7 linked regions of the Homo sapiens genome follow. The protein of the gene in region 1 purifies or fractionates together with the protein of each later gene. This does not show direct contact. Each region holds a gene or a part of one and is shown in the gene's direction. Other genes may lie near its edges.

What was found.
Region 2: the proteins of SCGB1D4 (region 1) and LNPEP purify together in Homo sapiens (affinity purification with mass spectrometry; 2 studies listed by BioGRID and IntAct, with this or other methods). This does not show direct contact.
Region 3: the proteins of SCGB1D4 (region 1) and CD109 purify together in Homo sapiens (affinity purification with mass spectrometry; 2 studies listed by BioGRID and IntAct, with this or other methods). This does not show direct contact.
Region 4: the proteins of SCGB1D4 (region 1) and NAALAD2 purify together in Homo sapiens (affinity purification with mass spectrometry; 2 studies listed by BioGRID and IntAct, with this or other methods). This does not show direct contact.
Region 5: the proteins of SCGB1D4 (region 1) and ERAP1 purify together in Homo sapiens (affinity purification with mass spectrometry; 2 studies listed by BioGRID and IntAct, with this or other methods). This does not show direct contact.
Region 6: the proteins of SCGB1D4 (region 1) and CACNA2D2 purify together in Homo sapiens (affinity purification with mass spectrometry; 2 studies listed by BioGRID and IntAct, with this or other methods). This does not show direct contact.
Region 7: the proteins of SCGB1D4 (region 1) and COL6A2 purify together in Homo sapiens (affinity purification with mass spectrometry; 2 studies listed by BioGRID and IntAct, with this or other methods). This does not show direct contact.

What each region holds. Positions count from the first base shown.
Region 1 is NC_000011.10:62,296,276-62,300,509, reverse strand, and holds SCGB1D4 (secretoglobin family 1D member 4 precursor), read left to right. Parts: upstream 1-1,434; 5' UTR 1,435-1,499; coding exon 1,500-1,554; intron 1,555-2,851; coding exon 2,852-3,038; intron 3,039-4,090; coding exon 4,091-4,100; 3' UTR 4,101-4,229; downstream 4,230-4,234.
Region 2 is NC_000005.10:97,029,749-97,033,773, forward strand, and holds part of LNPEP (leucyl-cystinyl aminopeptidase), read left to right. Parts: 3' UTR 1-4,025. UniProt on the Homo sapiens protein: Release of an N-terminal amino acid, cleaves before cysteine, leucine as well as other amino acids. Degrades peptide hormones such as oxytocin, vasopressin and angiotensin III, and plays a role in maintaining homeostasis during pregnancy.
Region 3 is NC_000006.12:73,698,678-73,702,702, forward strand, and holds part of CD109 (CD109 antigen isoform 1 preproprotein), read left to right. Parts: intron 1-4,025. UniProt on the Homo sapiens protein: Modulates negatively TGFB1 signaling in keratinocytes.
Region 4 is NC_000011.10:90,189,622-90,193,512, forward strand, and holds the end of NAALAD2 (N-acetylated-alpha-linked acidic dipeptidase 2), read left to right. Parts: intron 1-1,936; coding exon 1,937-2,126; 3' UTR 2,127-3,273; downstream 3,274-3,891.
Region 5 is NC_000005.10:96,790,765-96,794,789, reverse strand, and holds part of ERAP1 (endoplasmic reticulum aminopeptidase 1 isoform b precursor), read left to right. Parts: intron 1-743; exon of another isoform or gene 744-803; intron 804-832; coding exon 833-987; intron 988-1,276; coding exon 1,277-1,390; intron 1,391-2,597; coding exon 2,598-2,729; intron 2,730-4,025. UniProt on the Homo sapiens protein: Aminopeptidase that plays a central role in peptide trimming, a step required for the generation of most HLA class I-binding peptides.
Region 6 is NC_000003.12:50,367,449-50,371,473, reverse strand, and holds part of CACNA2D2 (voltage-dependent calcium channel subunit alpha-2/delta-2 isoform b precursor), read left to right. Parts: intron 1-1,093; coding exon 1,094-1,154; intron 1,155-3,238; coding exon 3,239-3,336; exon of another isoform or gene 3,337-3,571; coding exon 3,572-3,662; exon of another isoform or gene 3,663-3,678; intron 3,679-3,769; coding exon 3,770-3,832; intron 3,833-3,952; exon of another isoform or gene 3,953-3,976; coding exon 3,977-4,025. UniProt on the Homo sapiens protein: The alpha-2/delta subunit of voltage-dependent calcium channels regulates calcium current density and activation/inactivation kinetics of the calcium channel.
Region 7 is NC_000021.9:46,104,275-46,108,299, forward strand, and holds part of COL6A2 (collagen alpha-2(VI) chain isoform 2C2 precursor), read left to right. Parts: intron 1-4,025. UniProt on the Homo sapiens protein: Collagen VI acts as a cell-binding protein.

The sequences.
Region 1 (4,234 bases):
ACCCTCATAGCTGTAAACCTCACCACCAACCCTCCCCCTCCTTGGTGGCAGCAGGGCTGATTCAGGGACTCCGTCGTCATCCTGTGTGATGAAAGTGAGATCCACTGTTGCCCTCAGCTTGGACTCAACTAAATCTGTCAATGTGTCTTTGATGACAAAACCCGTAAGGTCCCCTTCCTTCTTAAAGGTTTTCCTGGCTGGATCTCAGCCCTGCTGTCTGTGAGAAACACCAGAGCAGTTTAAACAGTACAGAAAGGAGGGATTCACCCCAATGCTACTGAATCAAAATCGCCAGAGAGAGAAGCCTGTGGGGTCAGTATGTTTTAAAAGCTCCAAGTGATTTGACTACATAGCTGAGAATGGAAAGCTATGGCCTGGGCTGTGACTCCTCTCAAATGTAAGTTTATTTAAGAGAAAAATTTCTGGTGATTAAACTCACACCACATGAAGGCACGGCAATGGGAGGGAAGGCGGGTGTGTATTGCTTTGTCTGGGGGCTTCCTTCACTTTCCCTTAAAAATGGGATTGGCCCAGGCAGCACAGATAGGTTTGAAGTGGAAAACTTGAGCCTAGGGGTTAGGGGGAAGTGACCACCCACCCTGTTCCTCTGTCTCTTCCCTTCTATTATCTTCCCAGCCTAGAGCCCCACTGATGTATGATTGGCTCTGAACACTCCAAAAGCTCTTGAGAAAAAGAGTTAGGTTATTTAATCTTCAGATCAGCCCTAAGATAAGACGTGGGTGGCTACACATCACAGAAAGCTTGCTTTTTATAGATAGAAAATGTGAATCTTGGCCATATATATAACTGCACGTATAAACAAGATTCAGGTTTGGGAGTGAGGCAGGCTAGAGAACAGGTGCAGCAGATGTTTTTCCTCAGCATATCTTCTACAGGTGGGATGTATTCAACTATGTTTTCAGTACCTATGCAGTGAACATGGTGGTGATGGAAGGGGCTGAGGGGAAGGATTAGACTTTCCCAATGTGCAACTGAAACAAGCCTGCTTGTTGTCAGACATGCAGGGGGATCAAAGCAGGGTCTCCTTATGTCCCTGCTCTCCCATAAAGAGAACACAGCCTTCCAGCTTCCTGTGCCTTGTGAAGCCATAATTCACCTGTGCCCCTGCACTGCTACAAAGATAAAAAGAACTAATCAGCAAAAGCTCATAAGGAAATTGAGGATCCCAGGAACATTTCCAGATGTACCTGAACACTCACCTGGAGCACAGAGCAGAGTTCTCACAAGGCTGCTGTCTTGTGCTCCGCCCCACTCAGATGCAGAGATTCCTAAGGAGGTGACATTGATGGACGGCAGCAGCCCTGGCTTGGAAGGGCGGGCTGGGAGCCAGGCCTCATGACCTACCAGGTGCCCCGGTAGGTAGGACCAGCCAGGCTCCCTAGGTACAAATAGCCCTGGCCTCCATGACTACACAGGCTCCTGGAGTCGAATCCAAATCACTCATTGTGAAAGCTGAGCTCACAGCCGAATAAGCCACCATGAGGCTGTCAGTGTGTCTCCTGATGGTCTCGCTGGCCCTTTGCTGCTACCAGGGTGAGTACATCAGTCATGAGTCCAGCACCAGCCCCTGGGATGCACCCTCTTCTGAGCACAAGATCACCTATTTGTGCTTTGGGTTGGGGTCTGCACAAAACCAAACAAAATTCCAAACCCTTTTCTGTGCTTGTTGAATAAGATTCATAAAGGTTAGAGCTATTTCTTCTTTCTTCTTCCTTTTTTTTTTTTTTTTTTTGAGAAGTTTTGCTCTTGTTGCCCAGGCTGGAGTGCAGTGGCATGATCTTGGCTCACTGCAACCTCTGCCTCCGGGGTTCAAGTGATTCTCCTGCCTCAGCCTTCCTGAGCAGCTGGGATTACAGGCATGGGCCACCACAGCTGGCTAATTTTGTATTTTTAGTAGAGATGGGGTTTCTCCATGTTGGTCAGGCTGGTCTCGAACTCCCGACCTCAGATGATCTGCCCGCCTCGGCCTCCTAAAGTGCTGGGATAACAGGCATGAGCTACTGCGCCTGGCTGCTTAGAGCTATTTCTTCTAATCCCCAGTATCTAAGAAGTTTTATAGAAAAATCAGTTCAGGCAAATGTTAGGAATTCTTCTGCCTGAGCTTCACTTCTGAATGGGATCTGTGTCAGATGATGTAATGTGAGGTCTGGGGTGAACCTGGGCTTCGACACTTCCCACCCCTTGATCTTGGGCACAATGCTCACCCTCCTTGAGCCTCCTCTTATCACTGGTGGTTAAAGCTTCTGCCAGGAGTGGCTATGAGAATGAAGTAAGGTTATGGTTGTCAAGAGTCAAGCTGTGGGCCAGGCATGGTGTCTCATTCCTGTAATCTTAGCACTTTGGGAGGCCACAGTGGGCAGATCACTTGAGCTCAGGAGTTCAGCACCAGCCTGGGCAACATGGCGAAACCCCATCTCTACAAAAAAAAAAAACAAAACAAAACACACACACACACACACACACACACACACACACACAAAAGCGGGCATGGTGGCAGGCACTGGTAGTCTCAGCTACTTTGGGGGCTGAGGGAGGATCGCTTGAGCCCAAGACATTCAGGCTGCAGTGAGCCGAGATTGTGCCACTGCATTCCAGTCTGGGTGAACCTATCTCAAAAAAAAGAAAAAGAAGTCTAGCTGAGGATATGAAGCTCTTCCCTTTGTTGTGTGACCCGGAGAAAGTCACACCTGGAGTTTCTGGTATTGTCATCAGCACAATAATGGTATAGAAACATAGAACCCAGGGGATCCTGTCTGGTGTAACCTCAGGGAGCCATGAGAGAAAAATCGACTTTCCTAACATCAACAATATTTTTATTTTTGTGCTGCAGCCCATGCTCTTGTCTGCCCAGCTGTTGCTTCTGAGATCACAGTCTTCTTATTCTTAAGTGACGCTGCGGTAAACCTCCAAGTTGCCAAACTTAATCCACCTCCAGAAGCTCTTGCAGCCAAGTTGGAAGTGAAGCACTGCACCGATCAGATATCTTTTAAGAAACGACTCTCATTGAAAAAGTCCTGGTAATTTCTTTCTCCTTTATGCAGAGGCAGAATTCAACTCAGCTGCACACAGCCTCCTGCATGTTTCTTGTCAGGTCACCTGCCTGGATGCTGTGTCCCCAGAGTGTGCTGAGGACATGGGGAGTGAGCTAGGGCCAAGGCAGGGATGGTGAAGGGCCAAGCACGGCCGCCTCCCTGCTGGGATCTTTCCTGAGGTCAACCTACCCTCACGCAGTGGACACGGTCACTATGGGATGTCCCAGGGAGTGTGGGAGATTTGAACAGGGAGAGGAGGCTTGAGGGGACCTAGAGCTGGGCCTCCCACAGACAGGGTGCTGGTGAACTGGGCTCCTGTGCAGCTTCTGCAGAGCCAGGAGCCCCTTGCAGCTCCTCAGGGCCCACTATCCACTCCTCATCCATGACACTCTCCTGACCACAGCCAGTGGGCCAAGACTTTTTCGCTGCTCTACCTACTGCAACGCCACACAAGTGGGATGTTCTCACTATGTCTTTCTCAAGAAATCAGAGATTCCAGGGCCCTCTCAGCCTGGCTGCCTCTGGATTGTTGTCCTGAGGTTTGGCTGCAAATACCCATAGAAGCTGCAGGGTCAGGGCTGATAAGACCCCTGGCCGTTAGGCAGAATTCTCCCATGGGAAGACTGGAGTCTCCTGGAAGGTGTGTTTCCCAGAAGCCCTCCCTGCCCTGCCTGGCTTCAGAGCCCTGGGTCCCCCATTACAGGGATCAGGAGACTCCACAGACCTGGGACAGCCCAGACAACAACCTCTTGCTGCACTGTCAACCCCTCCCCTCCTCCTCCATGAAAACCCTGGGCCTAACTCCTGGGTCTTCCCAGGTCTATTGGTCTGGTGGGGAAAGGCTGCTTTCTCACCAGAATGGGTGTTGTAAGGCCACCAGGTCTAGGCCTCAGTTTCCCAAACTGAATTCTTGCCTCTGCCTTTCCAATTGCCATTGGGGCAAAATCCCATTGGCCTCTTTGATGTTAGCCTATCATCACCAGCAGCAGCATGACTGACCTCACCTTTCTTTCTTTCTTTCTTTTTTTTGATTTCAGGTGGAAATAGTGAAAAAATGTGGTGTGTGACATGTAAAAATGCTCAACCTGGTTTCCAAAGTCTTTCAACGACACCCTGATCTTCACTAAAAATTGTAAAGGTTTCAACACGTTGCTTTAATAAATCACTTGCCCTGCACATCT
Region 2 (4,025 bases), on another chromosome or scaffold:
TGTGTCCAAACTAACATAAAAGGAGTGGTCAAAGAAGGAAAGAAGAAAAATGAGGGAGGATGTCCGAAACTGTATGGCATTTTACTCCTTCTGAAAGAGAAATACTGTACTTGAATTTTTGAGCTATGCAGACTTATACCTAGATTGTTGTGTTTCTTTGATTCTTAGGAGAAAAGCTTTCTTCCTAATAATTCTTGAGAACTTTATATTTTGTTTGAAAACAGTTTCTATGTACATAAAAAGGGTATTTACCCATTTGTGAGCACTTAAAACACTCCACAGAGTCAGACAGTGGGAAAGGTCACCCTTTTTTTATTCGGCAGGTATCAAGTTAGAATGTATGGAATTGTGAATAAAATTATATTTTATTTTATGAAAATATTTTTATATAATAAAATTTAAAAGGCTGGTAAGCTAAAAAAATAGTCTTCTTTAATCCTAGTGTGTTTTCCCCAATTTAGTCTTTTCTAAAATTTATCTGTTTTAGAGTAGAAAATATTATATCCTGAGAATCACAGAATCATCTAAATATGTCTTATTCAACTGAAGTGATTGTAAGTCTTTATTCTTGTGCTTTGGTTAAATGAATGATAATTTAGTTGATAGTGAAAGTTAATGTGTTTTTATATTTTTAGAGTGAGGGAAAAATACTAAACTTTTGAGAGTTTTGTTGTCGTTGCTGGTTTTTTACCATGTGGTACTAAATTCCACTTTGATACAAAATTTAAATTTTGTAACTTCTCAAAATCACTTAAGATTCTTCAGTTTTACCTGTGCTTCTTGACATCGCTCCTATAATGTATGTTAGTTAACTCTGCATATGGCAAATCTTGTCTTGAATTATATCATTTCTCTCCCTCTCTCTCTCTCTCTGTGTGTGTGTGTGTGTGTGTGTGTGTGTGTGTGTGTGTGTGTGTGTGTAGTGTGGGGGGTATTGTTATGAGTAAAACTTTATCAAAACTTGGCCTGAAAAAGAGATAACTCATGATCCATTGCTATCTTTATTACTCAAAGGCTGTTCATTCCCATAATACCAGATCCATAATAGTTGTAGTTTTTTTGATGTTGTTGCCCTTACCTTAATTATTTGTAGTTTTAGTAGGCCTTGCCTCAGTTTTTCCCACAGAATTCCATAATTTTAATGTTGAACTAACCCATCTATATAGGACTTCTAAAAACTACGTCAGGAATGTAAGGTTAAATGAGAGGTAGAACTTGTAGTGTAATAGGTATAATGGTAGCTTTCAAAGTTTTATCTTCTCAAAACATTGTCTTAGCCAGTGTATTTCTGAGAACTCAGACTGAAGCACAGAAGTCACAGTATGCTTCTTTTATTTAAGCACACAGATTCATGACACAAGTACTTGTTGAACAAGTGTTCTCATTGCAGAGAGATCTACTTGAATATAAAAGGGTCATCATACTAGATTATTAAAAAAGAATTGGAAATCTTGAGTTGTGGAAGAAATGTTTATGCTTTGGAGATCTAAAAAAGTTATGAATGTAGGAATTAGATAAGTCCAGTTTGTTCTGTTAATATAAAATGGTTAGATATATTAAACTGCAAGTAGTATCAGCTTCACCATAAGCTTGGGCCTTCCTCCATCTTGTTTTATTTAAGTCTCTTTAAATGAAATTTTGTTGTCATTGTTTCAGCATTCATGAACTTTCTTACTATCACAGGTTCTACTTTAATTTTCCTTGCCATATGTGTTTCCATTTTGTGGGACATTAGCCACCACAGGAACACAAGAGTTGTCAGAAGACTCCTGGGTGTACAGAGCAAATCAAGCTGCATCAGTATTATAGGATACCAAACAGAATCCTTTCTATTAGGAAATAAGAAATCAGTTAAGTGTTGGCTGGGCGCGGTGGCTTATGCCTGTAATCCCAGCATTTTGGGATGCCAAGGTGGGCAGACCATTTGAGGCCAGGAGTTCTAAACCAGTTTGGCCGACATGGCAAAACCCCATCTCTACTAAAAATATAAAAATTAGCTGGGCATGGTGGTGCACACCTGTAATCCCAGCTACCTGGGAGGCACGAGAATCACTTGAACCCAGGAGGCGGAGGTTGCAGTGAGCCAAGGTTGTGCCACTGCACTCCAGCCTGGGTGACAAAGCGAGACTGTCTCAAAAAACAAAAAACAAAAAAAAAAGAGTTAAGTGTTGATTTTGTTGGATTACTGACAGTTTGTTGAGATGGATTTTAAAAAGAGTCTATTTAAACCAAAGTACCTGGAACCATAATCTGCCATCAGATTGCTAAACATTCACATAATCCCCATGTTTCATGGGGCTTCAGGGAAGGCAAATACATCTGAGATGAGCCACCTCCAAGGACAGCATTTCCTGGGCTGCAAAACTAGATGTGGATTTTGTTACTTAGGCCTCTCTAAAAACTGAGGCCATGGATATGACATAGCTTTTCTTCTCACCTATGCCTTTGTTACTTTTGTATTTATTGGAATTAAATCTCTTTTTAAAGAGCTTCCTTCCCCCTTCATCCCATTTGTATTTTTAAAAACTAAGTTATATATATATTTGCTTGTTTTTGCATTCTTTTATTTTGTGCTCCATTCCCTGCTTTGCCAGTTAAGTACTACCTGAAAAGTAGCGGTTCAAAAGTATGGTAAATCTCCTCCCTTAACCTTATTGCCTGTGTGGGTGACAGCTAATGGAAAAGTTGATCGATTTTTTTCAGTGGTTTTTTTGGGAGTATATACTTTAAAAATGTACATACATGTTTTTGATAGTTTTTATATTATTTCATTTTGTATATTTTTTTCCTGATGAAGAGTGATATATCATCCTATGAAAATTTCATCTACCCTTCCCATTTTACCTGTATGGGCAGTAGCTACAGACTAGTTATTTGGTTTCCTTCTTTGGAAGAAGGTGGTGATGTTGAGAGGAGAGCAAGCTATATTCTTTTAAAAGTGTGTACAGATGTTTTTGCTATTTTGTGTTATTTCATTTTGTATTTCATTCATCCATTTTGTGGACGTGTAGATAAAACGCGGTGGTCCAAAAGCATGACAGATGTCCCCTTTGCGTTTCTCCTTATTGTTCGCATGGACAATAACTGACAGAGTAGTCCTAGTTGCTGTTGTTTTGATCTAGTCTTGGGGCTGGGGTTGTATATTATTCTTTCAAGTGTGTATAAATATTGTGCCACCTTTTTATACTTCATTTTATACTTGTTTCCTTGTATGGATGCATATATACTTAATGAAAATTGAGGTTCAGAGTATGACAAATCTCTTTTCCCTTTTCCTTACTGCCTATTTAGGCAATAGCTAATAGAGTAGTTTGTTTTGTTTTGGGGTGTGGGGGAGAGTGGAGTATGTACTTAATGTATATAAATAAACTTGCTACTACATTGTATTACTAATTTGGTTCACACTGTGTCCTTCTCATGGATGTGAAAGTACCAATGAAATGTGGAGATCTCGATGTATAACAGTCTCCCATTCTCCTCATCCCTTATTGACTGCTGGGCAGTAGCTAACAGAGTAGTTGTCAAGTGGCGTATTTGAGGTGAGGGGGAGGGACGGGGAAGGTAGGAAAATGCACTTAATGTATATACATGTTTTTACTACTACATTGTATTAATTCATCGGGTGCCCAGACTGAAAGGTACCTAATGAACCATGGAGTTCCGGATGTATAACAGTCTCCTCTTTTCCCTTTCCCTTATTGCCCATGTGGGCAATACTTAAGAGTAGTTTGGGTTTATTGAAGATTTTTTGCTAGGAGAGAGAAAATTTTTTGCTAGGAGAGGTTTCAAGGTAAGAGTATATACTTTAAACATGTATATAAATGTTTTTGCTACTTTTCTGTCACTACCTTTCTTACCTTGTCCTTTACATGGATATATGAAGAAAATTGAGGTTCAGCCTGTAGCAGCTCTCCTCTTCTGCCCTTCCCTTAGATTGTCTGTGTGGGCAGGTGTCTAAGAGAGTAGTTGATTAGCTTCAGGGATTCTTTGGTGGGTGTTGGGGTATATACTTTTGTATATGTATG
Region 3 (4,025 bases), on another chromosome or scaffold:
TAGGTATATTTGGAATAGGAGTCAGGAAGAGATGGTGTGTGTAGGGGCAAGTCACTTTTGTCCCTCATAGAAGCAATGTCAGGGAAGTGGGAGGTCTTATTTCCCTGGAGGGGAAGTATAGGTTAGCCCTTAAGATCTGAGTTTGAATCCTGGTACTACTTTGCTACTAGTTGTATGATCTTAGGTAGGTTACTTAACTGCTTTGAGCCACAGTTTCCTTGTCTATAAAATGGAAATAATGAAACTGATTTCCCAGGGCAGTTATAAAGTTAAAATCTGTATATAGTACCTCTTAGGCATGCAATAAACAACAATTGCTAATATTATTAGTGTAATAATACTGCAGAAGAGGATGCAGAAAGTCCATTTCCTTTTTACATGGGGGCAGACTTCAACTTTCGTTATTGGACTATCATTTCTGAAAATGAATGACCCCTGATCTTATGATAGTCGCTAAAGAAAATATTGAAATATTAAATCACAGGACATAATACTTAAGGTAGTTCCACATTCATTATTTATTCATTAAGAATTTATGAGTGGGAAGAGGGAGGGTATTAAAAAACCACCTATTGGGTACCACACTTATCACCTGGATGATGAAATAACATGTACACTAAAGCCCTATGACAGGCATTTTACCTATATAACAAACCTGCACGTGTATCCCTGAAACTAAAATAAAAGTTAAAAAAAAAAGAATTTATAATATTGGCTCCACTAGTGTGGCAGTTTTCCTGCAATGCAGAGATCCAGAATATATATGGATGTTTTTGATAAATATTTGAGCTTTGCTTGGACATTTACATACTCTAATTCTAGAATTTCACCTGTTAGGTCTTTTCTGTGATCTCTGTTATCAGTCTCTCTTTTTTTTTGCAACAAATAGTACCTACATTGGGGTGCATGTTGTTGTGGCTTGGTTTTCAGCTTTATTCTTAGATCTTCTTTTGGGAGAAGGGTTCCTTGTATGCCCATAGGAAAGTTCAAGTACTCAAGACTGGGGCGGGCAAAGCTGTCCTGGGAGCAGAATGGATCTGTGGGAAGGAAGGAGGGAAAACGCTGCTTCTTTCATGGGCTGTTTTTGACTCTATTGACATAGAGTTTCATTGAAAATGCCATTGCTAGGAGCACTCTCCTGTTTCAAAGGAGAATGTTACTGTATTATCAGAGGCTGGGAGTTATTGTTCTCAGAGCAGATGCTTCCTGTAATGTGAGGACTTGAGGATCAAGACACTTCTCCCTGCTTGTCTTCACATCCTTTGCTTTATCTGGCTTCTCCAGTTGTAACAATATGTAGATAAACCAGGACTTCTAAATCAGGGGTCTGGATCTTCAAGTATCTGGATGTGGATTCATGTTTTGTTTTTTCTCCATCACATAAACACCAAACACCAACAAATAAATACCTTTTATTTTTAAGGGACAGAGTCTCACTCTGTTGCCCAGGCCAGAGTGCAGTGGTGAAATCATAGCTCACTGCAACTTGGAATTCTTGGGCTCAAGTGATCCTGCTGTCTCAGCCTCCTGAATCAGCTGGGACTACAGGCAAGTGCCAGCATGCTAGGTTTAAAATTTTTTTTTTTTTTGTAGAGATGGGGTCTTGCTATGTTGCCCAGACTGGTCTTGAACTCCTGGGCTCAAGCGATCTTCCTGCCTCAGCCTCCCGAAGTGCTGGGATTATGGGTATGAGCCTGATTGTTTCATTTTCCTATGAGCCACCCCCAGCCCCCCAACAGAAGGTTGGTTTTAATAAAGATTTATCTTCTAGTAAAGTTGGGTAAGGCAGTAGACTGTGTCTTAGTAGCTTATTTCCAGCAGTTTTGGATTTCTTAGAAATCCTCAGGATAGGGAGGTGTTTTACCCAAACCACAATAGATTTCTGGCTCAATTTGTGTTGGAAATAGTAATAACTAAATTGTTCAAATGGAGAATGTATTTAATAAAGGTGAAAAAGTATGGCATTTCTTCAGGGAAGAGTTCATTTGTTTGTTTGACAGATATGGGGGAGATTTTATTTACATTTCCACTTTTATGGCCAGGAGTGTAGGTTATATTACTGTTATTCATTTAAAAATACATTAATTCTACATTTATTGGGGATTGATTGTAGTTTTTTTTTTTTTTTTTTTTTTTTTTTTTGAGACACAGTCTCACTCTGTCACCCAGGCTGGAGTGCAGTGGTGCGATCTCGGCTCACTGCAACCTCTGCCTCCCTGGTTCAAGCGATTCTCCTGCCTCAGCCTTCCGAGTAACTGGGACTACAGGCATGTGCCACCATGCCTGGCTAATTTTTTGTATTTTTAGTAGAGACGAGGTTTCACTGTGTTAGCCAGGTTGGTCTTGAACTCCTGACCTCGTGACCTGCCTGCCTCGGCCTCCCAAAGTGCTAGGATTATAGGCGTGAGCCACCGTGCCCAGCGATTATGGGCTTTTTTTTTTTTTTTGGTGAATAATAGACCTTTAGAAAAAGTATTTCTGCTACACTTTGCAGAGTTCTGGGAAGGTGTATCAATGCCTTTCTAGTAGTGAGATTCAAAAGATTGCTTGTCACTGTTACCACTGTCACTGCCTCTACCACTATCAGCATCATTGCCATCAGCTCCATAGTGATTAGAACTATGTTCCTAATCTTATCTTCCTTTGCATAAAGAGTTAGTTAAATAAACATAACTGGCAAAACGTAGTAAAAGTTCAGCAGGTAATAATTACCAGAGGAAAGAAGATGGCACAGCTATTGGCATTTAAAATCAAGTCAGATTACTGTTTTGGGTGGAGAGTGAGTCTGTCCCTTTGTCTCTTCCCATATTTTTTTTCTCTTTCCTTACTGTGAAAGGAGTTCCTTGCCAAATCAAGAAAAAAGAAATTAAGAACATTTTGAGAACTGTCCTCTCATCTGTTAAGGCATATAAAATAATTTAATTTTCGTGATGTCCTTGAAACCATAATTTCTGTTTTATTTTCCCTTCTCTTGCTACAATTTGACATTTTCATTTGTAAACTTTCAGTAGTTTTCCTGAACAAGAGTCACTTCAAGTAATAAAGAATATAACCTTTCTCCCTCATTAATGAATTCATCATCATTAGTTTCATGTAAACCTGATTTAAGAAAAAATGCTAGAGGCTGAGTGCAGTGGCTCACAACCGTAATCCCAGAGCTTGGGAGGCTGAGGTGGGAGGATTGCTTGAGCCCAGGAGTTTGAGACCAGCCTGGACAACACAGTGAAATTCTATCTCAAAAACAAAAACAAAAGAACCCTTAAAACCAAAAACTCCCAAAAACCTAAACTGAAAATGCCTACTGAAATTTTGGGAACTCTGCATGGGCGTCTCCAGGTGAGTGCCTGCTGGTTTGGGGGCACCATTTTTTAAATGCTGCCAATCCTACTTCCATCTTCCCATTGAGTTACTGGGGTGGAATGTGCTCTATAAATGTGTCTGTAACTCGCTTTTTCTTTTTGCCCTAAAATCCTGGAGAGTTAATGGAGTGTTAACCTTTTTTTAAAGATTTTTTAAAAAATCTATTTTTTCCTTTGTTGTCTTTCTCACATTGACTATGATATATTTTATTTTCCATCTTGGCTCAGTAAGGGTGGGAAATTTTTAAAAATTGAGATATTAGCTGAAAAACTTAAAAAATCATCCAATTTGGTTTGGATGGTTTTCTGGTGGAAACAAAGCTCCTGAACATGCATTTCATGCCTCGTAGATAAAAATCAGTCCCATGGTCTTTATGAAAGTAGATTAATTAGTGTAGTGTGTGGGCAGATCTCCCAGAGCAGGTTTTCACAGGCAGCTTTGCCAACATAACTCAGTCTGAACCTGCAGTTATGTTAGAATTATTTTTAAAGGGTGTAGGCTTTTCATTCACACATCGTCTTTGTTCTTGTGTGTGATGTATATTAACAGGTAGGTGGTACCTGAGAATAAAGGACCACAGCATAATCACGATGTGCCTGGGCTCTGGAGCCTGGCTACCTGGGCACAGGTGCTGGCCATTCCACTTAGTGGTTGTGTGGCTGTGG
Region 4 (3,891 bases), about 28 Mb from region 1:
AGCCAGGCGTGGTGGTAGGCACCTGTAATTCCAGCTACTCGGGAGGCTGAGGCAGGAGAATTGCTTGAGCCCAGGAGGTGGAGGTTGCAGTGAGCCGAGATCATGCCACTGCACTCCAGCCTGGGCCGACAGAACGAGACTCTATCTCAAAAAAAAAAAAGAAATTTTGCATTATCACAACTCATCAGTGAATACTTACTATGTACTGAGGGGAAGGTTGAGGAAAAAAGACTATGAAGTGTTGACCATATTCTCTAGTCTGCTCAGTAGTTCTTGATGCCTCTTAAAAATTCAGAAATGTCCATTGTGGAGGGTAATTAAATCATCATATACTTGAAACCTTGAGAACTAGACCAGAGTTTGAATTCTTATGGGACTAGAATAGCTATTTGAGTCCACCATTTCATAAAAGGGTATTTGAGTTGCTTAAGCATTACCAATTGTCTGATCATTTCTTTTAGCTTGCTGCCTGCTTCTTATCTGAGAAAATTAGGGAAAGGATTTAGTTTCAGAATAGCTAATATTTACTGAACACCTATTAAATGTCAAGCTATGCTTTTCATCCAACATTTGATTCTCACAATTCTTTTAGAACAGTACTTTTATCACCATCATTTTTAAGATAACAGGCACAGGGAGGTTAAATAACCAGTGCAAGGCCACAAGGCTGATAGTTGATAGTATTCTGTTGATAGTAAATATGCTAGTATTCTGATTTTTAAAAAACAGGCAGTCTCAGTCTACAACCTGCTCAGTCACTACTCTAAGCAGAGTCTACATTATTTCAATTATTTTACAAATCTGGGACAAATTTAGACAACTTAGGCAATTTGCCAAAGGTCACTGAGATATTAAATGCCATATCAATGATTCAAAGGTTATTCGCTTCCTATATCAAATTTTTTTTGCTATATTCTTCCTTTACAATTCTCCAGAAGAGGGTAAGTATACTAAGGAATATCTATGACTTGCATCTCTAATTTCTTGACTCATATACAGGTCAGGATACCAATGCTTATAAACAACTTAGCACATAAACTGATTTTAATTTTAAAAAAATCCATCTGAGGCCATATTAAGATTTAAAAGCCAAGATAATAAATCCTGATGTACTTTGGTAAATCTGAATGATGAGTGTTATAGATTTGTCATTAATCATTAATCATTAATACTGACTTATATGGAGCTCTATATTGCTTCATACAGATTTACTCTAGAATAAGCTTTGGGGTTTGACTGTTGGACCTAATTCCTGATGTATTAATAAAATACATCCCTTTCTGGAAAGCAAAATTCTACGTCATTATTGCGGAAAGTAGCTTGATCCCTTGAGCTACTTATGTTGAAGTAGAAAAGCAACTATAAAACTTTCTTTTTAGATCAAAAGTTGAGTGTCTTTGCGGGCAACCCACATATAACTGTCTTACCTTTGTGGAATGGACGTCATTATCCTTGCCATTTGTAACACTTTGAAATACAGGCTTCTTTAATTACTTGTTTTTTAATGTCTAAAAAGTATTGGGAACAACTGTCATTCTTGTTTAATCTATTTTTAAAAGGCAACACAAAAATAAATTATCTTTCTCAATCTCCTCTTACTAAAAACATCCATAAACTTACATGTTATCACCATATTTGTGGATGCTTACGGGACGCTGAGCAATTATTCTGCACAACTTAAAAGAACCTGCTTTCTTCCATCTGCTTTGGGTTCGCAACATGGTATATGATTCCTGAGATATGTCTTAGCGAATGCATATTGTTAGCTTCTTTCCTGGCTTGAAATTATGATTCGCATAAGTATCTCAGATCAACTGTCTTCTTATTATAGGAACAAAAGTGAGTATCACAAGGAAACATCATGTGGTCTAAACAAAAAGCATGCAAAATGCATGTATACACTTTAGTTCAATTTGCCTTGTTTTCTTCCTTTTAGGCACATCATATTTGCTCCAAGTAGCCACAACAAATATGCTGGAGAATCATTTCCTGGAATCTATGATGCTATCTTTGATATTGAAAATAAAGCCAACTCTCGTTTGGCCTGGAAAGAAGTAAAGAAACATATTTCTATTGCAGCTTTTACAATTCAAGCAGCAGCAGGAACTCTGAAAGAAGTATTATAGAAGGTCTCAAGTGGCTAGCCATTAAAGGTGTTGCTAAAAGTCTGAGGATAAAATTCACCTTTCTGATAACTTATGAAGCCAGGGTGTTCTAAACTCTTTTCATGTCATGTTTTGATTATAGGCTTTGGTCTTTTCATCTGCAAAGCCTTTTTTTTTTGCTCTTTAAAAGTTAATAATTATATTAGCAAAGTGTTAATCTAATGAAGTAAAAAACTCCTGTGTGGCAGAAAGTAAAAGAAAATTCCCTAAATTATAGCAAGGAACATGAATTCTCAGACATTGTGAGTGTGGGAATGTAAAATGGTAAAATCACTTTTGAAAACAGTTTGGCAGTTTCCTATAAAGTTAAACATACACTTTTACTTTAGGACTCCAGAATTCCACTTCTAGTTATTTATTCAAGAGAAGGAAAAACAATGATCACAGCAATACTTGTATGCATGTTCATTGCAACTTAAAAGCGTAAAAACCCCAAATGTCCATCCACAGACGAATGTATAAACTGTGGTATCCATTACACAATAGACTACTTACTACTCAGCAATAAAAATGAAGTAACTTTCAATAAATGCAATATTATTGGCAGACATTGTTGAAGGAAAAAAGCCAGACAAACAACTACATAAAATATGTTTCTATTTAGATGAAGTGGCAAACTAATCTGTAGTGTTAAAAATTAGATTAGTGATTGCCTGGGCCAAGTGGCAGGTTGGGGAGGATGGCTGCAAAGAAGTATGAGGAAACTTTCTCCAATAGATGAGAATTTTCCGTATCTTGATCTGAGTGGCAAATTGTAAACTTAAAATATATATAAAATTTATTGTATGAAAATTAAGCCTCAATAAACGTGATTATAAAAAACAAGTCTGCAAGGAAACCAGAATCATATACCTTCTCTTGTGAAATCACCATGAAGTGTGAATGGTCAGGAAAAAGCCAGTAATATTCATACATTTAATAATTTCAGCTCTACTGAATAAACATATAAGTCTGATGGGTGATGAAAATAGCTACTACAATCTTCATATTCTAACTCCTATAAAGACTGTATATCAGAATCTGCAAACTTTTATGCAGATCCCAGTGACTCAATTACATGTTCAACTATGATTAAAGCTTCAATAAACTTGGTTGTTCATCTACTTCACCAAAACGAGTTAAGAATTAAAAATTAGAAGAGCCTTCATAGGCAAGTACAATAACTAAAATAAGAAATGACAGCTCAAAGCTTAACTACAAGGAAAAACTACCCATTACCCTTGCTCCCAGGCCAACAATACAGTTTAACTTAAAACAGTGGGGGCATTTAGTTTAGGGGCATTTTCTATACATCTCAGTATTACTAGAGGGTATTTCACTGATCCCCCACAATAAAATAAGTTGCAAGTATAGCAATGACTCTGTCATCAAGGTAACTTTTAAATATGTTCCATTCCTTCTGCTTAAAGAGGCAATAAGGTGTGCTATTTATGAAGTATAAATATACACAATTAAGACTTTTGTAAAAGGGAGTTAACTTTACTACCACGCTACACTACCAAAGTATAACACTTTAACTTTTGCCTTGAAGCACTGTGTTGTAGAAAATATACTGCATTAAGACCCATGAATCATACTATCTACTACCCAACTGAGTAGATCACTACGTATCTCTGGGCATCAGTTCCCTCCAACTCTATCATTTCTAAAGGAGACAAAGCACAAAGGTTTAGAAATGTCTTGGGTGTTCTTCCTACTGGTAGTTTTCCTGAAGACAAATGCGAGC
Region 5 (4,025 bases), on another chromosome or scaffold:
TCTGATTTTATTAGTGGGCAGACAGCAGAGGGAAGAGGCTACATTTTTTCTTTACTGGCACCTGCTTGGCAGGAACCCAGAGGATGCTCAACAAACTGTTTTGAATGAATAAATTTATATAGTGTAAGACAATCTGAATTTTCTTTCTTACACAAGCCCTTAAAACTATTGTATGTTTGATTTTTTAGGTATATGTGGGTCTTGGGCATCCAAAATAGAATGGATTATTATAATTGTTTAGTTTTTCAATTTCCAAACTCCTCATCAGAAGGTTAGAAATGGAGTCAAGAGGCCTGAAAAGGCGGGCACGGTGGCTCATGTCTTGTAATCTCAGCACTTTGGGAGGCCCAGGCAGGTGGATTACTTGAGCCCAGGAGTTTGAGGCCAGCCTGGGCAACATGGCAAAACCCTGTTTCCACAAAAGTACAAAAATATTAGCTGAGTGTGGAGGTGCACTCTTGTAGTCCCAGCTACTTGCAAGGCTGAGATGGGAGGATCACCTGAGCTTGGGAGGTTGAGGCTGCAGTGAGGTGTAATTATACCACTGCAAATGCACTCCAGTATGGGTGACAGAGTGGGACCTTGTTTCCAAAAAAAAAAAAAAAAAAAAAAAAAAAAGGCCTGAGATGCAAGTCTGACTTTGCCACATTTATAGCAAAGTGATGCTGAGTCACTAAGCCTCTTTTTCTCCATTGTGAAAGGTTCTTCCAGTCTAGAGCTCCATGATTATGCACGGGCAGCTGGTTCAAACACCTATCCATTCTGAAGATTAGTGTTTGGGAGAATGTATAGCTTAGAGACTGGTAATGTATTTTATTACTTCCTTCCCAAGATCTTGCTGCTATTCCCGACTTTCAGTCTGGTGCTATGGAAAACTGGGGACTGACAACATATAGAGAATCTGCTCTGTTGTTTGATGCAGAAAAGTCTTCTGCATCAAGTAAGCTTGGCATCACAATGACTGTGGCCCATGAACTGGCTCACCAGGTATAAGCTCATTCACACTTTTAATAAAGTATAAACTACATTTATATTGCTTCTATGGGACATATAAGGCTATTTATATAATTTTTACTTTGTCTTTTTTTAATAGGAAAAATTGTTTCTCCAAAGCATTCGTTTTTATGTCTTATAATGCATGTTGAACTTTTTTTATTTTTACCTTGATTAAATATTGGTCCTGTAAATATATGTTAACATTCATAAACTTATATTGGACATCTAAAATATACTTCTTTCTGAGTGTCTTTGTTTATGGCTTATGTTGTGCTTTTAGTGGTTTGGGAACCTGGTCACTATGGAATGGTGGAATGATCTTTGGCTAAATGAAGGATTTGCCAAATTTATGGAGTTTGTGTCTGTCAGTGTGACCCATCCTGAACTGAAAGTTGTAAGTAGTTATTTATCCTTCACATTTGAGGTTAATTTGTTGTTTTGTTCAATATTGCTGGAAAATATTCACTAATCTTTGATTATAGAACTTATAAAAATATTTCACTGATAACTTCCTTGACAGTTTAGATATGAATCGTGTTGCAAAAATGCTAGTGAACTTTCAAGATATACCACAAAGACTTATTTACAAACTCAGTTGTGAATCTATGATTGTTTGTAAATTGTCCGATTTTATATTTCTTAATATCAAAGAAATAGAAATAATGGCAGCCTAAATGTTCCATTTCATTTTCCCAACCTTCAGGTTGCTCATTGCAGAATTATTAGGTACAGATTACTGATATCTCAATAGGACCCTACTTGCCAAATCAAATGAGTTATACTTAAGGTAACTGCACATTTGATTGTATAACAACCTAGGCTTCTGGATCACAAATTTATTGCTTTGGAACTGCTATATGGTTTATTTTTTAAATCACCACATTTAACTTAAGAAAATCACATATAGCAAAATTAAACTTATGTAAAAATTTTTTTATCCTACTCCAATGATTCTTTTCATTTGTAAATATTTATTCCTATTTTCATCTGCCTGTATACATTATTTAAAATATACATTTGTGAATATTTATTACTGCCTATTTTCATCTGCCTGTGTACATAATTAGAAAGTACACATCAATATTGCATTATAATCCTAAATATTTTCTTATGTTTCTACATGATCTTTAGTAATAAAAATGATTATGGATACATATTGTCCTGTTGAGCTAATGTGCTCTAATAAAGCTGGTTAAGGTTCTCCATTTATTTTCATTATGTTTTTAAAGGTAAGTATCTTTGCTCTAAAACAGTACAGACAATGATTGGAAATGTTGAAATTACTATACAGTTAATTTCTTGTTGTGTTGCTGTTTGGCTATAGGCATAATTGTTTCGTTTTTAGATTAATACGAAATTTTCTTTATTCTAAAGGACTTAAGATGAACAAAATCTATAATGTTTAACTAAAATCATTGTTTCTTGGGTAGCTTTTAGAATATATTAATTCTATTTTGTTTCATAAATATTAGGAAATATGGAATAGGTTGCCCCCAAAATGTGAAGTATGGACTTCTTGCCTCAGATAAAATGTCCCACCTTTGACATTTTTTATCTAAATGTAAATCATAGGTGATGTTTTCTTTTTTCTATCTCAATAGGGAGATTATTTCTTTGGCAAATGTTTTGACGCAATGGAGGTAGATGCTTTAAATTCCTCACACCCTGTGTCTACACCTGTGGAAAATCCTGCTCAGATCCGGGAGATGTTTGATGATGTTTCTTATGATAAGGTAAAAGTAGATTGAGTATAAGGATACAGTTTAGATACTAAAGTTATACATACTGGGGTGGAGAAGTTATAGGCAAGGTTGTGGGGTTAAACCCAGATTGAATGCCTTCTCTCTTGACACGTGCTGGCTGGAGTCAACTCTTTTAGGACTAACTTGCAGTTTGGCTCATAACCCTAAAGATTATTTTATGGGAAATTCTTCATATATTCTTTCTTGGGTTGAAAATTCATGGCTTACAGAAACTCTGCTTTTATTCATCATTCAACAAATAGGTATTGATTGAGCATCAACTTTGTACTAGACAAAAATTCCTGCCCTCGTGTAGCTTACTTTTCAAGGCCTTCAGCAATGGTTAATATTGTTGAGACGCAAATAATTGTCTTGCACAGTGTGCTTAGTAACAGAGTTGGGAATTGTTGACAACAGTTTAATGATTGGGAGATTTTATGTAAAATCCAGATTTCTAGCTTCTCTTGGGGAAGAAAAAGGAGGATTTGGCCACTGTATGTTCTTTGCAGCATAAGCTGGAGCTAAGTTGTTGTTCTCTCTTTGTAAGATCAAGGCTCTGCTTTTCCACTTTCCCTGCCATTCCCAACTGTTCTATTGTCTTCTCACCGAGGCTGAGAGTGTGTTGCCAGTTACCATTGTGCTTGGCTGTTGTTTTACCGGTAGCAAACAGAAAAGTCTTTCTTGCTTGCATGTTTCCATTGAAAGTCCAGGGGAAAAAGAATGTAAAAGAGCATTCTTCTTATCCTTGGACTACTTCCCTTATTTATATGCCCTGTCATGTGCCACTGGAGGCATTTGAGTTTGTGACTCACCATCCGTGGTAATGGGAGTGGAGGGGAAAAGAGCCCTTTACCAAGGAATACAGGGTGTCTGGGAAGACTCTTGTTCCCTTTCTCATTGTGACTCCAGCTCCATCAGCCCTCCATGCTCAAGGCTGCCTGGGCTCCCTGGACATATCCACTTTTCCTTCCCTGGCATCTACCTCTGCCTCCATCTCTAGTGCTCCACCCCTTGTTGTACTGGCCTCTCCTTAGTCCTGCCCTGGAATGGCAGTGGGAGAGCCAGGTAGTAGCTCAAGGTCCAATGTTTAATCTGCACCATTATCCCCACTCACATGTGAACAAAGGGAGTTGGCAGATGATGCTAATTTGCCCCATCGGGAGGTCTGGCTACTGATAGAAAATAAGGGCCTCAGTGGGCTCAGAGCATAAGCAATCACATTAGACAAATCTCCTGCCTAAACAGGTCCAGGTTTAACCTGCTTACTCTGTTTCACAAATTGCCAGA
Region 6 (4,025 bases), on another chromosome or scaffold:
CAAGGTGGCCAGTCCAGCTGGGCAGGGAGAGGCCACAGAGGAGCCCCAGCGGCCACATCCTCAGGTTCACTCTCAAACCCATACAGAGATACTCACACTTAGGCACACACACACACACACACACACATGCATGCTCACTCACCCACACATGCACAGCTCATAAGCCCAGGGCACAGGCCCAACTGGGGATGCCTCAACAGCAGCCCTATGCCCTCTCTGGAGCCCTAGCATCCCCCATGGCTGCCTGGAGCCCAGACAGGTTTTAGGAAGGGTGGAGACCCAGCCCGTCTCCACGCCCTTAGCCAAGGGAAGCAGGTACAGTTTCCAGCAGCACCCCTGTCCTCCTTCCAGCTCCTCAGACTTTCTTCCCACACTGTGGGAACACTCCTTGGCACTTTGAGGGTCTCCCTTCACCTCCTAGCCCAGGGAGGACCACCAGCCCCGACAATGCACTGCAGTGAACCCTCAGCTGCCCCGACCCGTCTCTGGTTGGACTGTTTGTGCCCGTGAGAAACCCCCTCGGTTTGGCCATGTTGATGCCTGACACAGAACAAAAGCAAGACCTACCAAAACGCAAACAGCTGCGGCAAAGAAAGAGAGAGAAAAATCCGCAGCCAAAAGCCAATTCCCTTCCTCAAAGTCTCTTTGGAGGCAAAGGAAGCTCAGCATGCGGTTTTTTCCATTATGGATGTGATAAGAGCGAGACTGGCGCCTCCCCCAGACCATGCATATATATAGCAGTGTGTGTATATATATGTGTGTGTGTGTGTCCGTGTATATGTGCTATACAGCCGTATGGAAGCATATACAGCCACGCCAAGGGACTCACTGCCGACAGAGGACCAGGCCCGGGCAACATATTGGCTATAACTGCCCTCCTCCTGCGATGCTGTAGTCTCCACAGGCCCTCCACCCTCCCTGCCCGTCCCTTCTCTCTGGCTCCTGGACGTGGAAATGGCGGGTTTCCTCTTTGCTGGTGTCTCCCCCTCCCTCCAGCCCCCCTCTCCCCTGTCCTTCCAGCCCCGTCAGCTCTGAGCCCCCCGGCCTCCAGCCTCCCCAGCCCCCGCCGGATAACCCCCCGTTTCTGTTGCAGATTTTGAGTTCCTGCTCCCCAGCAGCTTTGAGTCTGAAGGACACGTTTTCATTGCTCCCAGGTAGCTTGCGTGTGGCCTTGCTGAGGTGTCCTCCCCTACCCTGACCGCCCCGGCCCCACCTCCTGCACTGCTGCCTGGAGCTCTGTGTGTCTGTGTCCTGTGCAGTGTCATCCCCCGGCCCCCATACATCGCCCGGTATGCGCGGCTGTGTGCATACCCAGGCCATGTACCGCACCAGGCAGCAGTGGCCAGCTGCCTCACGGCCCTAGCTCCCACCAGGCCGGGGCAGGAGGGCTCCAGACTCATCTGCTGACTTTCCCTGCCCTCCCAGGCAACCAGGCAGGAGCCCTTTCCGCCCTGGGGTGGCTGTCTGTGGCATGCCCACCCCTCGCCAGGCAGCTGCTGCTCTGGTTTGTGGTGTCCTGCCCATCCCCCCAACCCCGCACCCCATCGTTGTCCTGTGTCAGTCGGTGTTCGTGTGGGTCTGGGGGCCGAGCCAGCCAGAGCCCCTGTCGGCAGTGCCGGGTCTAGGCGTGGTACTTCACTTGGGGGGTTGGGGGAGGAGAGTGGGGGCTTTGAGGAGCTGCTCCATCAGATGAGGAGACGGGGCCCCGAGCAAGCCCAGGCCTGGACCATCCCGGAGTGCACGCTCAGTGTGCACACACACGTTCTCATGTACACACCGTCTGCCTTTGGCCCATGTCTGGGGAGGCCGGGTCCCCTGGGTGCTGAAGCCCTTCCATGACCCAGGCTTGGGATGAGGGCAGGTGGGTGGATGCAGCTGACAAGAGACCCAGGGGCACTGGAAGGCAGCACACGGGGGCTCTGGACATGCCTCACCTTCGTGTGTGCACGTATGTGCATGCACCCAGTTTCTCTGTGACTCTCTCTGTAGATGTGTGTATTTGTGAGTCACCATGTACATATGTAAGAGTCTGAGCATAAATGTGGGGGTGGCTCTGTGTGTTAGTGAATGTGGGAAGGTGTGAAAAGACCTATGTGGCCCACATGACCCTGAGGAAGCTCTCTTGAAGGCAGGGACCCTATTCGTTTTTGTCATCTCTGTGTCTGTGGCTCAGAAGAGCTCAATAAATACGTGGAGGGTGAGTGAATGAAGTACCTCACAAATGTGCACGTGCATACTGTGTATACAGGAGAGACTGCAAGTGACTTGGTGTATCTCAAGCACAGTCGTGTGGGTGTCACCCTGGGTGTGTCCAATGTGGCCTCTAGGCACAGAGGTGCAGGCTGTACACTGCACAAAGGCCCTGGGGGCCAAGGAGAGAGTGGGGCCTGAGACCCAGTTCCATGTGCCCTTACCAAGCCATGAGCCCTACCACAGCTTGGGGAAGTGGCACACGTTCAAAAGCCCCACAGTTAGTGCCATATGGGACAATGAAGCGGTCCCTGGTGGCAGAGGTATGAATGAGGGGTCGAGCGAGAGAGAGCTCCACCTATCAGGGTAGAGGGATTGCTCCCAAGACTTCCTAGGCAGCAAGCCCCAAGCAGACCCCCTCACGCCCCACAGCCCCATGTTCTCTGGACCCAGAGCCTGAATGCAGTGAGGGTCTTGAGGGGAGGAGCATTCCAGGCAGAGGGAACAGCCAGTCGGAGGACCCACATGTTCCCACTGACTTTCTGACACCCTCTGTGCTATGATGAAAAAAGCGAGGGTCAGAGAGCGTGAGTGAGTTACCTAACGGCACACAGCCAGGAAGAGGCAGGGTGAGGTCTTAGGCTGACAAAAAGCCAGTGCTTGTACTTGGGTCCCATCTGGTGCCCATGGGAATGCTCTAGGGCATACACGTGGATGAGCAGGCCGCCAGGCATTTCCTGGGGCCTTTCAGGTGCACTATCTGGGTCCAGCTACACCGGAGAGACGGGAGGCTCTGCGGAGCCATGCCCAGGAGAAAGCAGCTGCCCGAATGGAGAAAGTAGACCCTCATTCTTGTGTCAGCTCTGCCCCGACTCAGACCCGAGCAGCCTGCCAGGCATGTAGCAGCTGCAGCCAGGAAGAACCCATGTGCCCCTCCCTGAGGCCCAGGCTTCTCAGTGAATGGCCAAGTGGGCCTGTTGGGAAGCCTTGACCCCATTGCCCTGTCCAGCCCCCCAAGCCCACTCTTCTTGCCCCTCCCCATCCCTAGAGAGTACTGCAAGGACCTGAATGCCTCAGACAACAACACCGAGTTCCTGAAAAACTTTATTGAGCTCATGGAGAAAGTGACTCCAGACTCCAAGCAGTGTGAGTGCCTGGCAGGGCAGCTGGCTCTGGGCAGTGCCCAGGCAGCATGGGGCCAGCCCAGAGGAACCCAGAGGCCGGGCAGGTGTGGAAATAAGCAGGCACAAGCTAAGGGCTGGGCCTGGGCCAGGGCCAGGTCATGGAGGAGGCTCCTGGTGGAGCCTTAAGGGTGGGGGTGAGGGTGGGCAAGGAGCTGCAAGAAGATGCCCCCACCCCCACCCCTCCCCTCCTGTTCCAGGCAACAACTTCCTTCTGCACAACCTGATCTTGGACACGGGCATCACGCAGCAGCTGGTAGAGCGTGTGTGGAGGGACCAGGATCTCAACACGTAGGCATCACCCAGCCTGTGGGGGCAGAAGGCTAGGATGGGCCCAGAGGCCCTGGACCTGCCCAGCAGAAGGCAGGCCTGTGACCCCACCCCCCTGCTACCCCCAGGTACAGCCTACTGGCCGTGTTCGCTGCCACAGACGGTGGCATCACCCGAGTCTTCCCCAACAAGTAAGTGACCTATCCCACTACCCAAACCCTGCCCCTGCCAGGGAACCTGCATCTGTTCTGCCCAGAGGCCTCCTTGCATCTGTGGAGACCACTGTCCCCGACAAGCCACCCCTTACCTACCAGTCTGCCTCTTGGGTGCTCCAGGGCAGCTGAGGACTGGACAGAGAACCCTGAGCCCTTCAATGCCAGCTTC
Region 7 (4,025 bases), on another chromosome or scaffold:
AAATGTGGAGAAAGTGAAAGAAAATGTAGGAACAAATGAAAATATCAATAAAAAGCTAGAAATTTTAAAAAGAAACCAAAGGGAAATTCTGGAGCTGAAAAGTACAATAACTGAAATTTAAAATTCACTAGAGAAATGCAAAGGCAGATTTCAGCAGGCAGAATAAAGAATCAGGGAACTTGAAGATACAAAAATGGAAATTATTGAGTCTGAGGAGCAGAAATAAAAAGATTGAATAAAGGTGATCAGAGCCTAAGGGGTCTGTGGGATACCATCAAGCAAACCAACATAAACATTGTAGGAGCCCCAGAAGAAGAGAGAGCAAAGGGAGCAGAGAGACTATTTGAAGAAATAATGGCTGAAAACTTCTAAAATATGATGAATGACATGAATATAACCATCCAAGAAGCCCAAAAAGCTCCAAGCAGGATGAACTCAAAGAGACCCACACTGAAACATTCTAATCAAATTGTCAAAACCCAAAGACAAAGATTTTGAAAACAGCAAGAAAGAATGATTCATCACATGTAAGGAATCCTCAATAAAACTATTAGCAGATTTCTGATCAGAAACTTTGAAGGCCACAAGGCAGTGGGCCAATATATCCAAAGTGCTAAAAGAATAAAAACTGTCTACCAAGAAGCCCACATCCAGCAAAACTGTCCTTTAAAAGTAAGGGAGAAATTAACACATTCTTAGATCAACAAAAGCTGAGAATGTTCCTTACCACTAGACCTGCCCTATAGGAAACGCCAAAGGGAGTCCTGCGGGTTGAAATAAAGGGTGATAGACAGTAATTCAAGTGAAGAAGTAAAGATCTCAGCCAGGCATAGTGGCTCATGCTTGTAACCCCATCACTTTGGGAGGCCGAGGCAGGAGGATAACTTGAGCCCAGGAGTTCAAGACCAGCCTGAGCAATATAGGGAGACCCTATCTCTATAAAATAAAAATATTTTTAAAAATCGACCAAGCATGGTGGTGCACACCTGTGGTCCCAACTACTGGGGAGGCTGAGGTGGGAGAATCATTTGGGCCTGGGAGGTTGAAGCTGCAGTGAGCTGTCACCACACCACTGCACTCCAGCCTGGGCAACAGAGCAAGACCTTATCTCAAAATAAATAAATAAATAAATATCTCAGTAAAGGTAAATATATAGACAATTATAAAAGCTAATATTGCTGTAACAATGGTGTGTAATGCTGCTTTTTGTTTTCTACATAATTTAAGAGACTGATTTAAAAATAACATTATGCTTTTGGACACATAATATATAAAGGTGTAATTTTGTGACATCAATAACTAAAAGGGTTGGGGACAGAGCCATTCAGGGAGCAGAGTTTTGTTTATGCCATTGAAGCTAAACTGGTATAAATTCAGTGTAGACTGTTATAATTTTAGGATGTTAAAATGCAATCCCCATGGTAACAACAAAGAAAATAACTAAAGAATAAATACAAAAGGGAATGAGGAAGGGATTTAAATGTTTCACCATCAAAAAAATTAATTAAACACAAGACAGTGATACTGGAAATTAAGGACAAAAAAATCCATAAGGTATACAGAAAAAAAATGCAAAATGAAAGAAGTCCCTCTTTATCAGTAATTACTTTAGATGTAAATGGATTAAACTCTCCAAACTCTCTCTGTTAAAAGACAGAGATTGGCAGAATGGATTTAGAAAGCCAAATCCAACTATATGCTCTCTACAAGAGATGCACTTTAGATCCAGAAACATAAATAGATTGACAGTGAAAGGATGGGCAATGACATGCCACACAAATAGTAACCAAAAGAGAGCAAGAGTGGCTATACTAATACCAGACAAGATAGGCTTTAAATCAAAAAAGGTTACAAGAGGGAAAGAAGGACATCATATATTAATAAAAGGCTCAATACAGCAAGATATAATAATTATAAATATTTATGCACCTAATAACAGTCCATCAAAATATTTATATCTTACACTGGGAAGATTGTTGCTGGCTCTCAGTCTGCTTCCAGTCTGCTCATATTGCTTTTGTTGTAATGATGGTCATATGTGGGAGCTCAGTGTCAAGAGGGCAGACTTGAGCCCACACTGCCAGGCTTCAGACCTCAGCTATTAGCTGAGTGCCCTGGGCAAGTTACCTCACTGGGCCTTGGTTTCCTCATCTGTTGGAGTGGGGATGGTAATAGTACCTATGTCCAAGGCCATAAGTCCAATTGTGAATGTTGAATGAAGGGATATAGGACAGTATCTGGTACACAATTATTATAGATTTTTCATTGACATTTTATACATTCTGTTTTCTTCAAAGACTTTTTGGTTCCTGTTTTGCACTCAGATACTTCCTTTTCCTGGAGTTTATTTGGGAGCACCATGTGAGGTAGTACCTTTATTTCTAGTCACAGGGTGAGCCCTCATCCCAGCCTGCTTCCACCACTCTGAAAGGCCACCATGTCATAGCCTAAGTTCTCGTGTGTTGTTATGCCCATGGTTGTGTGGAGTGTTGGCCTGTTCCAGCACCAAAACCAAAACTGTAATTTTATCGTTTCATTTGATAGCACAAGCTTTCTCATCACTCTATTTTTTATTTTGCTCAACTCTTCTTGCTTTTTCTACCAAGTAAAACTTGGATTCATTTTGCAAACTCCTATCTACAAAAATGCAAAAAATTTTCTTGGAAACTTTAATTAAAATTGCATTCTATTATAGATTCAGTTAGGAATAACTGATATTTTTAAATCAGTTTAAGATAGTGGGATGATTTCTTATCCAAAAACAAGGTTTGTCTTTCCAATATATTTCTCAAAAATTTTTTTGAGTTTTTTTCATAAGTCCTGCACATTTTTATTCAGTTGATTCCTTGGGTTTATGTTGTTTTTCTTACTAGTGTAAATAGCATTTTTCTGCAACATTTTCTAACTGGTTGTTAGAAAATGTTTCTTCTAACTGATAGAAGAAAATCAATAACTTTTTGTATGTTGAGGACTAAGCTCTGATTTTTTTATCTTGCCTATATTCTTATCTAAGGGGTCTGGGGAGTCATGCCCTACAAACCATAAATTCTCATCAGATGGTTTTATCTAACCCTATATGCTGTGACTTACTTTCCATCTGACTCTGGCATGACACTACACGACCAAGAAGAAAATAAAAATATTTTACCCCAAAACATGTTTCTTTGCCACATTTTGAAATGGCCCTGCAAAGCTGTCCTTTACTGGGGAAAATTTGCATCTGTAAGGAATCTCTGTTAACATAGCTAGCTCTTTTTCTTCCAGGCCCTCCCAATTCTGAAGAGATTAACCGAGAGTCTAGCAGCTTTTAAAGGTCTCAGTAGGAAACACTTGTCATTGATTGTCTCTAAGGGCAGCCACTATGAGACTTCAGAAGAACCTTGGTCTCCACAGTCTTTTATCTTAACCTGAGCATTTCCTTTCTATGATCCCAGGTCTTTAGACAAACTCAACCAATTGTCAACCAGAAAATGTTTAAATTTACCTGTAGCCTGGAAGCCATCTCTCCCCGCTTTGAATTTTCCTGCCTTTCTGGATTAAACCAATGTATTTCTTAAATGTATTTGATTGATGTCTCATGCCTCCCTAAAATGAATAAAACCGAGCTGCACCCCAGCCACCTTGGGTACATGTTCTCAGGACCTCCTAAGGGCTGTGTCATGGGTCATGGCCACTCATATTTGGCTCAGAATAAATCTCTTAAAATATTTTACAGAGTTTGACTCTTTTCATCAATGATATATTTTTCTAAGTGGCTCACTAAATTTTCTCTCCCTAATCTCCCCTCCTTTCTCTTTCTTTCTCTCTTTCTCTCTGTCTATATATATATATATTTTTTTTTCTCTTTTTTAAAAAAACTTTGTTCAGATGATTTTCTGGGTAGACAATCCTATCTTTAATAAGGACAGTTTTGTCTCTTCTTTTCCAACAGTTATACTTTTATTTTTACTGTCTTATTGCATTGGCTTCCAACACAACACTGAATGGTAGCGTAAGATCTGCACTGTTTGCCCCCACCCCATTTT